Homo sapiens: one gene and its partners. The protein of the gene in region 2 purifies or fractionates together with the protein of the main gene of each other region. This does not show direct contact. Each region holds a gene or a part of one and is shown on either strand. Other genes may lie near its edges.

Region 1 (3,073 bases), on a different chromosome or scaffold from region 2:
TGCTGACCTGAGGCCATGCAGCCAGACTGAGGAAGAACAGGCCTGCCTCTTCCCTCACCCTGCTCCCACCCAGTCAGGCTGAGGAGATCAGGCCAGACAACTTGTTTGGGTTTAGAGACAAGGGGGCTTATTATGCTGGCGGCACCAAGGCACTAATGGGGGGGGGTATACAAGGGTGGGGGTGGCCCCAAGGCCTAATCCCTGTAATCAGTACTGTGGGCAGAGATGATGATGGGCCTGGCTTCTGCAGGCGCTGAGGTCACCTGGACTGGCCTCCCCCAGCCAAGCAACAGCCCCTGGCCCTCCCCAGGCCCCAGCACTGCTCCCTGCAGCTTGGGTCTGTCTGCCCTCATCCCCCCAGGTCCTCCTCTCCTCAGGAGGCAGCCCCTCCCCAGCACCAGCTTCCTCCTCTCCCCCGCCACCCCCCGCCCGCCCCCGCCATCTCTCTCCTGTACTAACCCTGAGGGTCCCCTCTGAGTGGGGGAAAGAAGAGTCCAGACTTTGAAGCGGAGGCATTACTTTATTCAGGCAGGGACTAGCCAGGCAGGGCCACAGCGTGGCAGGGATGGGGGGAGTCAGCACATGGGAGTGCCGTCACCTCCATTAGCCACAGGCCAGACGGCCCAGGAGGGCGTGCTACTGCAGTGAGATGGTGCACTACTGCAGTGAGGTGGCGCAGGGCTGGTGAGCTTGGGCACAAAAGCCAGCATGTCACCCTCCCTTTGGAGAAGCCTCTGGGCCACAGGCCTTTTCCAGCTGACGGGATGCGGAGGGAAGGGGACCTAGTACTATCGGGATTCAGCTGACTTAGCCTATGAGATGGAGCAGGCAAGAGATTCCCTTTGCAGGGTGGGAGGTTATATTCCTACAGCCTCCATTCTTGGAGTAGGCTCCTTTGCCACACCCCTTTTCACCTTAGCGGGCCAGGCCTCTCAGCCAGAAACCATATGTCAAGAGATCGTAAGTTAAGAGTGCTGCTCCTGAGCAGGGAGCGGGCTTGGAGGCGTCCTTCCCCTCCCCGCACCCCTAAGTCCCCAGTGCCGGGCAGATGGTCTTTTCCTAGTCCTCCCCTGAGGACCAGGACTCTCTATCTCCTTCCCTCTGAGTGAACTTCAGGAACTGACCCTGGCCCAGGTGAACAGGAGCCCCTGCCCAAGAGGTCTTCAGAGCACTCCCCTCCTCCTCCTGAAAGGGGCTCCCTCGGTCTCCCTCAGAGACTAGCGGCATTCCTTGCCCCACTTCCTCAGACTGCTCCAGCCCGTTCATCACTCCCCCATTCACATGCTGTGACTTCCCCTCCAAGTTGGGACCCTGGCCATTAACACCAATGATGTCTGCCCCTGGGCCTGCATCCTCCATCCCACTGGGGATCTCTAGAGGGCCAGGGACTTTGTCCTCCCTCTCCAAGGAAACAGGGTCAGACTCTTCCTCTGAGCCAGAAGGCTCAGCACTGTCCTGGGACTCCGTTTCCAGGGCAGTCTTGGGGGCACCAGCCACTGCACCCCTCAAGCTGTCATCCCAGGGGACACTGACACTCACAGAATCAGACTCCAGGAATTCCCCTCTCTGGGAGCTACTCAGGGCCTGGAGGCTGCCAACAGAAGACCCTGGCCCCCACCGCCCAGCCCCTGGCTCCCTCCCCTCCTCCTGATCCTCCTCTCCCTCCTCCCCACTTTCTTCCTCATCTGCAAACCCATCGGACTCCCCATCTCGATCCCAGGCTGCAGGATCCAGTAGCAGCTGGGGCACCTGGCCCAGAGGTTCTGCCACCTCCCCAGGGACCCCAGGAAGAAAAGGTGCCTCAGTCCCCAGGTCCTCAAATTCTTCTGACAGGTCAGAGTCACGGCCACACTCCTCTTCTCCCTCCTCCCCCTCCTCCTTTTCTGAGGGTGGGGCCTCAAGGCCCTCGGAAGCCAGGACAGCAGGATCCCAGCCCTCCTTTCCAGTCTCCCCTTGAGGGGGTGGCCTCTGCTCTCCAGTGGGGTCCCACCTGGGGGAGGTGGGGGACCTGAGGTAGAAGCCCAGGGGAGTGGAGTCTGGAAGGGTCTCCCCGAGCTCATCCTCCTCGCTCTCTTCTCTGCTCTCCTCCCCTTCCTCCTGGGGGCCCTCGGGGATCTCCCCAGAACCCAACTCCTCCTGCTCGCTCTCTACTTTCCCCAGGGCTTCAGCCCTCCCCTGCACCCCCCAGCTAGCCTCCTGACTCCCTTCAGCCTGAGGCTGAGGCCCAGGGGCATCTTCCAGGATCGGGGTGTACGTTGGGCTGGGGGAGACCAGCACTGGTGGTACATCCTCCTCAGCTTCCTCTGACCCCAGAGGCCAAGGTGAAGGGGCATCACTTCCAGTGTGGCCCAGGGTCTCAGCAGGGAACGCCTCCTCTGCTCCCCTGGGGGCCTCAGCCTCTGACTCCTCCCTACCCTCCCTGGGAGGCTCCCAAGGGTCTCTGCTCTTCCCAGGCAGCTCGGAGAACTCTGTCCCCAGACCACCTGCCTCCTCTAGGTCCTTTCTAGGCCCTTCCAAGCCCTGAACCCTCTTTGCCTCCAAACTCTCCTCTTCCAGGGGTGGTTCCATCACCTCTTCCCTGGTCAGATGGCCTGGGTCCCCCAGCCCTCCCACCCCCTGCCCCGGGCCTGGCTCAGCTCCCGCAGCAGACTCACCCATGGCAGGCTCTGACCCCAACATGACCTCTGGGGAGGCTTGGTCACCCCCTGGGGCCACATCATCTTCCACCAGGGGCTCTATCGCCTCTGGCAGCCCCTGGGGAGCCTGGAGGCCTGGGGCCCCCACCTGTTGTGATTGCCCTTCAGGGTCCTGGAGGCCCTCAGCCCCTCCCTTCACACTGGCTCCCTCAACCAGGCCTCTCTGCTCTTTGGGCTCAGGGCTCTCTGGGTGCCCCTCGCCTGGGATCCAGACCTCCTCTGTGGCATTCAGCTCTCCCTGCTCTACCACCTCCTCCTTCCCAGTGAAGCCATCCTGCTCCCTCAGATTCAGCTCTGCCTCATCCTCATTTTCCACTCCAGCCATCCCAGGAGGGCTTTCCTGAGCCAGTTCTTGGTCCTTCTCCACCGTATCTTCC
Region 2 (3,959 bases):
TAGAAACAAATAATCATAAAAAATAAAAGTATAAATCGTCCATTGATTATGTAATAGCACTTGGTATTGCTACAGGGTGTGGGTCTTGAACTCGGTCAGGCATCGTCAAGCCTGCCCAGGCCCTCCAGGCCTCTTTGATAGCTACTGAGCCCCTGAAGGCATCAAGACATGACCACGCATGGCAGTGTCGGTGGAGAGTTTGCGTTTTACACCCAGCGATGCTTGGGGATGGCAGAGAGATGGATGGATAATGAGTACAACTGCAAACAGCACTGTACACATGTGGTGAGCCAGGAGGCTGGGACGGAGGTTAGGCCAATGTTGCTGCTGACTCATAGACCCACAGAGAGCAGGGACTTCACAAAGCTGAATTAATGTGGTTAGTTGTGTTCACTGTGCAAAGTAAGGAAGCCAGTCAACACTGGACGATGTTTAGAAAACATCGCTGTCCCCCTCCACTTCTCATCTTGGGTCACCTCCTCATCCCATAATAAAGTTCTCTTAGGATAAACCGAGCAAAATAGCTCAGACATTTAACTTATCCCCAAACATGTGTCTTGATCTTAGTTTCCACCCAGAGAATGAAGAAAGCAAGCAAGCACTGGGTTACCCAAGCAACTAAATCACTCAGTTGCATCCAACTTAATTGGACTGACTACATTCAGCTAAATCTTTCCATTTTCGCTGAACCCAATGGTTTCGGTTACTGTAATGACTGATTTCCAAAAAGAAAGAAAAACCTAATTTGGCATTTTTTCAGAATATGGGATGGGCTTTCCTGCATGGGTTCAAGGATGTTTATGGCATGTTCTCTGTCGTGTGTGTGTGTGTGGGGGTGTGTGTGTGTGTGTGTGTGTGTGTGTGTGTAGGTCAGCCCGAGACCTCAAGGGCTTATCTGGAAAGAGGTTGGCAGGAAAGGAATGCGTCTTCAGGACTTGGCAGTGTTTGTGCAGAGCTCTGAGGAAGGACAGCAGTACATGGTCCTCAGGCCTGCAGACTTCATTGCACAGAGCATGGCAGACAGTAGATCTTGGCTGCGTTGTTCTGCCTACTTTGAAGGAGGCATAGAACTTCTGGCTCTTTGAAATTTTAAAAAAGAGACCAAGTTCTTTTCTGTCTACTAGAGATCATTCATTTGCATTGTCCTACTCTCAGCCCACAAAAGAAAAGCAACCTCTCCCCTATGTGGGTCACGATGTGTGGGTGGACACGGGCCCCACTGAGATTACACAGGAAGAAGTCACAGTAGACAGAGCAGCCAGATGCCGTGCGTAGACCATGGGACAGTGATTAGTGACACATGCCCTGTGGGGCCACTGTCAGTGCCTTGCTCCACCTTGACCCAAATGTTCTGAATTGCAATACTCTGGGAGATGTGGGTGGGGGCTGAGGTGGAGAGTAGAGGGGTTGGCAGTGTGCGGGTTTGGCAAAGCATCACGACCATCTTTGGGGTTCAAGTTCATTGACATGTGATCTACTAGGCATTATCAATAATGGTTTCACACATCAATATTCTATAGCCTAAACAGCTGTGCAACCTGAGGGAAGTCCTTCTCCTCCCCCAGGTTTCACTTTGCTCCTTTACTAATGAGAGGACTCGACTAGATGACACCAAAGGTCAGAAACACTCCTTATCTCAGGATTCTACGGGTCTGGCCGAGGGACCCCTGCCATGCCGTATGACCCCAGACTGACCTCCCTAACCTGCTGGGGTCTTAACTTGCTGATCCTCAAGCCTGTTGGGAGGGAGAAACTCTTAAAATCAAATCCTACGCACTGTAGTTGACCTACACAAGTGGCTTCCGCATTTGGACAAAAATCAGTTACTAACAAGTGAACAACACATCAGTAACAGTCTTATTAAAACTAGTTGTTTAGGTCAGGCACAAAATCTCAGAGGAGGCTCAGGATGGGCCTCTGGGCTCCCTAGATTGTCTTTCCAGAGAGGGCAGTAAGGTGACACCACCAGAATCCACCAGGAGGCCCCGGTCACGCCCCTGCAGGAGAATTCAGTTATGGAAAATGCTTTCAGGACCTGCCTGGTTCAGTCACCAGTGGTCTCCCAGGCTGTCACCCTGGGGTGTGGGTGGCAGTGAAGAGGCTCTTTGGAGATGCATGTGGCCAGGGGAGACAATGGGGACATCTGTGCTTGTTGCACCCAAGCTACGCTAGTGCCCCCATCACATGTCCCAGCACACGCCAGAATTTACAATTTACACAGCCTTATAGTGTCAGGCTCACCAGAGACACTGGCTGCCAGCCACTGGGGCTGCGTCCCCAAGTGCCCATTTGTCATGCCTTTCGATTTTCCCTTCCTAGTAGCTCCCTGTCAATGTTGCTGAGTCATGTACTTAGGGTGAATTTGAGACAATACTTAGAGGACAGCAACAGCACGTGAGACAGGCACATCTGACATGCCTAATTTCCCCCAAGGCCCTTGCGGGACAGCCTTCTGCAAAAATGACAGCTTTGTTGGGGGGCCTCCCTTTGGGAATCCCAGTTCATAGCACCAGTGATTCCAGGAAACAGGAACGTGACCGTGGAGGGATGGATTATGGTGGGAACCCAGGTCTCCTTTAACATCTTGGTTGGAGCGGCCCTTCTGCAGAGCTCTTTGGGTAGTAAGCAAGAGCCAGTCACAGAGACACTGGCATCCACACCCAGGGCCCCTGGGTGGGAGAGCACCACTGAATAGGTCCTGGGGCCCTTGAGTCGCCAGTCCCAGGGACCCCTGCCTCCGGGAGACCCACTGGAGTAACTTGGCCTCAGCTTCCTCTGACACCCCTCCAGCCCAAGCCCTCCGCTCCAGCCCCTCCGCCCAGTCTGAGGGCTCCTCAGCAGAGAGAGAACCTCCGAGAGTTGATGTTCATCTTGGTCACGCCAATAAGCTTGAGTGGTGTGGAGAGGCTGAAGGAGGAGGCAAGAGGGGAGTCACAGAAGAGGTCGGCCAGCTCATCCCGCTCCTCCAGCTCGTAGGTGGCATCGTTGAGCATCCTCCTGTGGAGGCGGCAGGTGTGTTCGATTTTCAGCTTGTTGATGTCGCCACGCAGGCGCATGAGCTGTCTGGCCAGTTGCTGGTCCTGCAGCCGCATCTCCGTCTGGAAGGGAGGGGGAGCAGGCAGGGTCAGCAGAGAGTGGCTCGAGTCCCTGACAGGCACAGACTGGTTAGCAGGGCCCTGACTAATGTCTTAGTTCATTAAGTGGTCCATCTAGAAATATTAGCACTTTCCCTGCTCAGGGAGGTGAAAAGACACAGAAAGCAAGGTGACAAATGAGGGTGCGGTCGCAAAACAATACTTTGTGCTAGGCTAGTTGCTGTATCTAAGTCCTTCTGAAAGACATGCATATTGGTCCTGGCTAGAAGATACTTCCAGTGCTTTCTCATTGTTTAGAGTTTCATTTAGATGGAGTAAGAGTATAAAGGAAAACATAGGGTAACAGCTATCAAATTCAGGAGGATGGTTGCCTCTAGGTGAGAAGGAGGGACTGTGATTGGGAAAGGTATATGGGGGCTTTGACTGTGATGGCCATGTTTTCTTTCTTACGCTGGGGAGTGTCATGTTGTTACATTACTCTTTAAACGTTTTAGAATGCCTGAAATATTTCTTAGTAAAGTTTCAAAACAGCCAAACAAAAATTGGTTCCTAGGTACTGGGTGTTTTATTATGAAACAGTTCTAAGGCCTTTGGGTCTATTAACATGCAACAGTTAACCGTCACTACAACCTGTGAAGTGATGTCACCATCATCACCCACAGCTTATAGAGGAGGACACAGAGGCACAGCCAGGGAATTAGCTGTGTCGGCTCACAAAGCTCATCCACAGCCGAGCTGGGATGAGGAAGCCGGACAGCTGGACTCCAGAACCAAAATGACTGACAATGAAGTTCTGCTGCTCAAGGACGAGCTGCAGTGTGGTGTATGGAGCTAGCAGAGTGCTTAGTGACCTTGTAGAAGGTT
Region 3 (3,500 bases), on a different chromosome or scaffold from region 2:
GCTGCCAGGGCAGAATCCTTTGCCCTTAAATCTGGAGTGGAAGCAGAAGGAGCTGGCTCCTCTGCCTAGTGCAGAAAGCCCAGCTGGTAGACCAGATGGGGGGCTGGGAGGAGAAGCAGCCCTGCAGAATTGCCCAAGGCCAGAGATTTCCCCAAAAGTTACGAGTTTATTGGTGGTCCCTGGGAGCTCAGATGTAAAAGACAAAGTTAGCTCGGATCTCCCACAGATAGGGCCACCCTTGACCTCTACACCCCAACTACAGGCTGGAGGTGAGCCGGGGGATCAAGGGAGTATGCAGTTAGATTTTAAGGGACTGGAAGAGGGACCCGCTCCAGTGCTGCCAACAGGGCAAGGGAAGCCCGTGGCTCAAGGGGGGCTGACAGATCAGTCAGTACCTGGAGCTCAAACAGTGCCTGAAACTCTCAAAGTGCCCATGGCTGCAGCAGTGCCCAAAGCTGAAAATCCCTCCAGAACTCAAGTGCCATCTGCAGCTCCCAAACTGCCTACATCTCGAATGATGCTGGCAGTGCACACAGAGCCTGCAGCTCCCGAAGTGCCTTTGGCTCCAACAAAGCCAACAGCTCAACTGATGGCCACAGCTCAAAAAACAGTTGTGAATCAACCAGTGTTGGTAGCTCAAGTGGAACCCACAACTCCAAAAACTCCCCAGGCTCAGAAGATGCCTGTAGCAAAAACATCACCTGCAGGTCCCAAAACACCCAAAGCTCAAGCCGGGCCTGCAGCTACAGTTTCCAAAGCACCTGCAGCTTCCAAAGCACCTGCAGCTCCCAAAGTACCTGTGACCCCCAGAGTCTCCAGAGCTCCCAAAACACCTGCAGCTCAGAAGGTGCCCACGGATGCAGGGCCAACCTTGGATGTAGCCAGACTTCTGAGTGAGGTCCAGCCTACATCAAGGGCTAGTGTCTCCTTACTGAAGGGCCAGGGGCAGGCTGGAAGGCAGGGTCCCCAGTCCAGTGGCACCTTGGCCCTCAGCAGTAAGCACCAGTTTCAGATGGAGGGGCTCCTGGGGGCTTGGGAGGGGGCCCCAAGGCAGCCACCTCGCCACCTGCAAGCGAACAGCACAGTGACCAGCTTCCAGAGGTACCACGAGGCCCTGAATACACCCTTCGAGCTGAACCTGTCAGGGGAACCTGGAAACCAGGGGTTGCGGCGAGTGGTCATCGATGGCAGCAGTGTGGCCATGGTGTGAGTAGTCACGGGCGTGGGGTGGGCTGGGGATGCTGTGGACCTGGGGCAGGGCATCCCTGGGGGACAGAATGTGGGCATCCCTTCCCAACCTTCCTATGGGCGACATGGGGAAGAGATGGGAGGGAAGTGGTCCATCCATGTTGAATGGCTCCTGCGTGCCAGGCAGTGTGCATGGAATCCTCATAGCAGCCCTCAAGGGCAGGTTTCTGGTTTCCCTGTCTGATAGATGCTGAAGCAGGCTCAGAGGTGGGAAATCTTGCCCAAGATCCCTGAGCCAGCAAGGGGTCCAGCTGGCCTTTTGGCTCAGATGTGTCCACTGCCAAGGTCCATGCCCTTCCCAGGCCAGCTTTTAAACTTTTAGCCCAAACTTCAAGGCCCAGCACAGATTTCTTTTCCTGACTCTGCTGGCCCTTAGCGATTGCCCTTCCTCCACAGTACTTACTGCTGTAGAGGTGTTAGCATAAACATGTGCATGCCACATAATTTGCCACATGATAGAGTAGTTATCTGTGCAGAGCACACTCCCAGCACACTGTCGGTGGCCAGGGAATTTTTGTTTGCTTTAAGCCCTCAACTGAGCTCTCTGAGTGGAGGGGCTGCCTTCTTCCTCTTGCCCTCAATGTCCCTACACACATGCGTACACACAGGTACATGCACACACACACACACATGCACGCGCACACACACAGAGTTTCTGGCAGTGCCCTGCACCAAGTAGGTGCTCACAGAATGTCTGAGTATGGAGGGAAGGGGAGAGGGCATCATTGGTGTCCTTGGTGCTGGCATTGCTTGCTTGCTGCCCCAGGGCTGGCTCTGAGGGAGGAGTGGTGAGGCAGGGTCTTTCCTTGTCCCACGACCCCACAGGCATGGCCTGCAGCACTTCTTCTCCTGCCGAGGAATTGCCATGGCAGTGCAGTTTTTCTGGAACCGGGGACACCGAGAGGTCACTGTGTTTGTACCCACCTGGCAGCTGAAGAAGAACCGGAGGGTGAGAGGTGAGGTGTCCCCTGCCTGCCCAGCCTCCACAGTGTCACCAAGCTTTCTTCTCTCTGCCTTGCTGCCCCGACCCTCTGCCACCCCAGAGTGGCCATTTCCACTTAGCCCTCCCTTGACCATTTCTGTCTTCTGCCTTTCACCCCCAGAGAGCCACTTTCTGACGAAGCTACACTCGCTCAAGATGCTTTCAATCACACCCTCCCAGCTTGAGAATGGCAAGAAGATCACCACCTACGATTATAGGTGTGCCGGTCCCCAGGCCTGCCCTCCTGGGCTCAGGGAGTTGGGCCTGGCTGGTGTGTCAGGTGGAGTCCGGCCTGTCTTCTCTGGGGAAATGGAGGCAAACATGTTGGGGGTGTCGGTTGTGCAGAGGGTGGGGTGGAGCACGGGCATCTGTCAGCAGAGGGATGGGCACATTGAGGAAAGGGCTTGAGGTTGGCTCTCCCCAAGCCCGGAGTTGTTTCTGACTTTGGGACTCTGGAGTCCGTCTGCCTTAGCTAACAGGCATTCTTCCCCCATGACCTGTGAACATCAGAGAGGTTCCCCAGGGTTTTGGGTGCCCGTTTCGGTTGAGGCTCATGTCTCCAGACTGCTTTAGTCTTTTCCTCCCTCGGAGCCCCGGCACTGGTGGAGGTCTGTGCATGGCTGATGTGGATGGAGCCCTGGGCAGGGCTCTGGAAAAGGAGAGCCCTGAATGCCTAAACCCTGAATGCTTGCCTGCTTGTCAATCCTAAGCGCCCACCCCTCAGCATGGCTGCAGGACCTCTGTGCTCAGGGGAAGCCTGTGACCCTGCCTCTCTTAGGGCAGGGAAGGCCCTGGCATAGTCACTGGTCCTGGGTTGGAGTTGATGCTGGGCGGACAGAGATCTTGGTTTCACATAGGCAACTCTCATGCCAGGCAGGGAGAAGTTCTGTTTCTCCACACTCTTCCCAAGACCTGGCACCCAACCAGGCCTGGGAAGGGCTGGGCAGAGAACCTCACTCATCCCTCCTTGTAGAGCTGGTCCCCTCCATTGAGTCTTCAAGTGCCTTTAAGTTCAGGCGTGGGTTTGATGGAAGATGGCTTTTCCGCAGACCGTCCCTCTGCTGGGCACTTGAAGAGTAGCATGCTTTGGGGAGCCCGAATGGAAAGTTTCAGGGACTACTGAGAAGTAGGTAGCCTTTGCTTTCTTTCCTGGTCACAGCCCTCTTTAGAGGAGAGGTGATCCTTGGAAAAGTGGATTTGTTTATTCAGGTATGTGTGCTTATATGTGTTAGCGTATATATGTCTGTATGTCTTGGCATGTATATGAATA
Region 4 (3,500 bases), on a different chromosome or scaffold from region 2:
ACTCATCACACTTTGAACTGGAATTCTCTGGGTCAGGTGTCTACTCTTAATCCAATTAGCTAAGCCTGGAGGTCAAGATTACAGGGTGTAATTCTGAAGACTACCTAAACCCAGATCTTTTAGTAGGAGCTATGGACAAGAGGTTATTTTAAGAAATAATTTGAAATTAGGCAGGAACTATATCTACTATGCACTAAATCTTGGATTTTTTTCTGTGGGTACAGATAGTTGTCCTGAACATTTCGGACATCTTTCCAAAAAGAGGAGGGGGCCCTAGGAAAAGGAAACAGGTCCGGGAAGACAGATAAAGGGTGAAGGAATGGCTCTCTTTGTCTTCCATTTTGGGGTCCAGACTTTGCGGTGTCTAACCTTATTCAAGAGTGTGCCTCATGGTGGGAGAAAGCTGGTATTTGGCAGGCTGGCAGGCTATTCATAGTTATTCCTACAGAGGATTCCAGAGGCTACAGAGTGGACCATTACAGAACACCAGCTATATTTAATAGCCAGATCAGTTAACTGCACATTAATTTCTATATTTTTTCTTATTGCTATCCTGAACCTTTAGTAAAGCCTTACTTGTTTAAACATTAATAGTTTCTTAGCTGTGCTATAGGGGATTGAGAAAAGAATTGGTAACTGAGTTCAGGTTGGAAAGGAAAGGGGAAAGGCAATGGCCACTGACACAAGGACCCTGACACCAGTTGTTATGTACTTCAGTAGTGACTGCTAAGAAGTCTCTGTAAAGAAAGGGACTCTTCTACTTCTAAGATTATGGGGGTATGGGACATGAAATCTTCTACCCAACTCTTACCACGTAACAACTAATCTTTCACTGCCATCTTTGGAGGCTTATCACCTTATTCCACGAAGGGAATCAGTAGGGTCCTTTACCATTTAATAATTTGTAAGCCAATACTTCTAAATCAAGGACCAATGTATGTATCCAACTGATTTCTAGATATTCTGTCTTAAGGATTTCATATATAATTTATTATATTCAAAAGTGAACTCATTATTTCTCCCAAACCTTCTCCTCTTCCTGAATTTTTTATTTTATTAAAGAGTAACAATCACCTACCCAATCACATGAGCCAAACACAAGTAGTCAGTGTTACCTTCCTTACTCTCCTTCACCCTTTTTGTATCTATCAGGATCAAGGCATATCAATTTTAACATCTAAATTTCTCCCAAATAAATCACCTGCTCTTTATCCTCACTATCATTGCCTTAGTAGAGACCCTCATTATTATTCTGAAATAATGACTACTAAAATTCTCTTCAAATTATCCTTGCCTATCTTACTTTCCTAACAAATCACTATTCTGCTTTGATGATAACCTTTGTGAAACACAAACCTAAGAATATTAGCCTTGCTGAAAATCTTCCTACGACTCTGGGATAAACTCCATGACTTGATCTTTCTACTCTTCTGCTACAGCTTCCTTCAGGTGCTCACATGTACCCTTCCTGCTAGTCACACAGGAACAAACCACACTCTTCTGTGGTAGCACACCTTTTTTTTTTTTTTCCTCTGAGGGAAAAAAGGCACAAAACAAAGCGAAACAAACAAGCAAATAAAAAAGGAGCACTAACAGTTGGTGCCCTGTCTGGCAATTAACACCTAAACTACTGTACCCTCTAATGAATATAAATAATTTCATGAAAAAGAACATCACATGAGGTCACTTCATTAGCATAATGAAACAACACACCCAAAACCACCATTCATGTCCGAACATAGACAAAACAAGGGCACCATGTAACCACATAAATGAGCAGATATAGCCCCCCTTGCCTAACATGAGTACTTATTTTATGCTAAAAATTTCATTCTTACCATCAATCATCAAATTGCTCCTGCTCCCTGACAGCACCCGTAGCCCTTGCTTCCTCAAACCCTCTCCAAAATTATCCAACACAAGTCCAATCCCTAAAAGCCTCTGCTAATTCACTCTTACCAAGACATTAAGGTGCCTTACAATTCCCCATGGAACACTGTATTCCTGATAAAGGCAAAACAAATCTGGAACCTCACAAAAACTATTCCTGATTTAATATGATCCTAAACCCAGAGTAGTAAATTATTGCTCTCTGCATTCAAATGAAATCAAACCCTATTTCCAAGTAGCATGTATAAGGTATAATGTGTAAGTCTTTATAAACTTGAGTCTTTTAATTAATCTAGATCAGATCATAAACTCTATGAGACCAGGTATTCAACCTAATCATAATCTGTAATCCATTTCAGATAGAGGCCTGTTAATTACTTTCAGTCCTGGCACAGTTGTTGAAATTTAGCTATGTGAACCCGGACATGTTAACTCACACCTGTAATCCCAGTACTTTGAGAAGCAGAGATGGGAGGATTGCTTGAGCCCAGGAGTTCAAGACCAGCCTGAGCAACATAGCAAGACCTTGTTTTACTAAAAACAGTATGTAAATAAATAAAAAATTATCCAGGTGTGGTGGCACGTACCTGTAGTCCCAGCTACTCAGGAGGCTGAGAAAGGAGGATCACTTTAAGCCAAGGAGTTAACATCTAGGAGACTGCAGTGAGCTATGATTGCACCACTGCACTCCAGCCTGAGCAGCAGAGTAAGACCACACTTATCTCAAAAAAATTAAAAAATTAAAAAAAAAAAACTTAGCCATGTGTTTTCTAAATAGGTTAAAGGTATATTCTATAATCATGTCATTAAAAAAAAATAAGCCTGAGCATGCAAAATCAAACTTGAAAAAGGCAATGTTTTGCAAATCACAAGCATTCAATATTCTTTCAGTGAATAAATATTTAAACTCTACTATATGCAAATACTGGTGATAAAAGCACCGACATACTTTCTGTGTGCTAGACAGGCAGACCATAAGATAAAGTTTTTGCTCTCAAGGATCTTATACTCAAGCATTAACATTTGTTGAATAGATATATGAATGGATAAATAAAACAGGCAACATTTTACCAAATCTGAAATCTGCAGCCTATAATAAATTTAGTTGCCTTAAATAGCATCTCAAATAATTATACTTAACAAGCTAATCACTGAAATTGTTCTTTGTGCAATGATATTGATATGTGCTCCAAATATGCAGCAGTCAAGAAAAAACTTCAGATCAGTTGCCTGGATTCAAATTTGATCTACAATTCAATAACTGTGTGACCTTTGCTGTAGTTACTTAATTTTGCTGTACTTCAGTTTCCTCAACTGTAAAATATAAAAATAGTACTTATCTTGCAATGGTTACTTCAAGAATTAAATGAGTTAATATAGTAGTTAGAATCGTGCCAGGCACACTGTTAGTGCTAGAATATATATTATTTTATTGTTACACATATAGTAGAGCTGAAAGATTTTATAACGTTAACAATCCACAGATATTAAAAATTTAACTTAACGATGAATTCTCAATTGGACAAAACATCTCTTCTATAGCTATGATTTAATCATAGATATGGCACAAAATTTAGATCTTTTAAAAATACATAACAATCAAAACAAAG

Evidence for each region.
Region 1: the proteins of FAM167A (region 2) and NES purify together in Homo sapiens (co-immunoprecipitation; 3 studies listed by BioGRID and IntAct, with this or other methods). This does not show direct contact.
Region 3: the proteins of FAM167A (region 2) and NYNRIN purify together in Homo sapiens (co-immunoprecipitation; 3 studies listed by BioGRID and IntAct, with this or other methods). This does not show direct contact.
Region 4: the proteins of FAM167A (region 2) and CEP44 purify together in Homo sapiens (co-immunoprecipitation; 3 studies listed by BioGRID and IntAct, with this or other methods). This does not show direct contact.

The regions. Positions count from the first base shown.
Region 1 is NC_000001.11:156,668,263-156,671,335, forward strand, and holds the end of NES (nestin), read right to left. Parts: coding exon 1,060-3,073; 3' UTR 501-1,059; downstream 1-500. UniProt on the Homo sapiens protein: Required for brain and eye development.
Region 2 is NC_000008.11:11,421,539-11,425,497, forward strand, and holds part of FAM167A (protein FAM167A), read right to left. Parts: intron 3,099-3,959; coding exon 2,835-3,098; 3' UTR 1-2,834.
Region 3 is NC_000014.9:24,409,003-24,412,502, forward strand, and holds part of NYNRIN (protein NYNRIN), read left to right. Parts: coding exon 1-1,206; intron 1,207-2,073; coding exon 2,074-2,204; intron 2,205-2,351; coding exon 2,352-2,448; intron 2,449-2,454; exon of another isoform or gene 2,455-3,500.
Region 4 is NC_000004.12:174,311,411-174,314,910, reverse strand, and holds part of CEP44 (centrosomal protein of 44 kDa), read right to left. Parts: intron 1-3,500. UniProt on the Homo sapiens protein: Centriole-enriched microtubule-binding protein involved in centriole biogenesis. In collaboration with CEP295 and POC1B, is required for the centriole-to-centrosome conversion by ensuring the formation of bona fide centriole wall.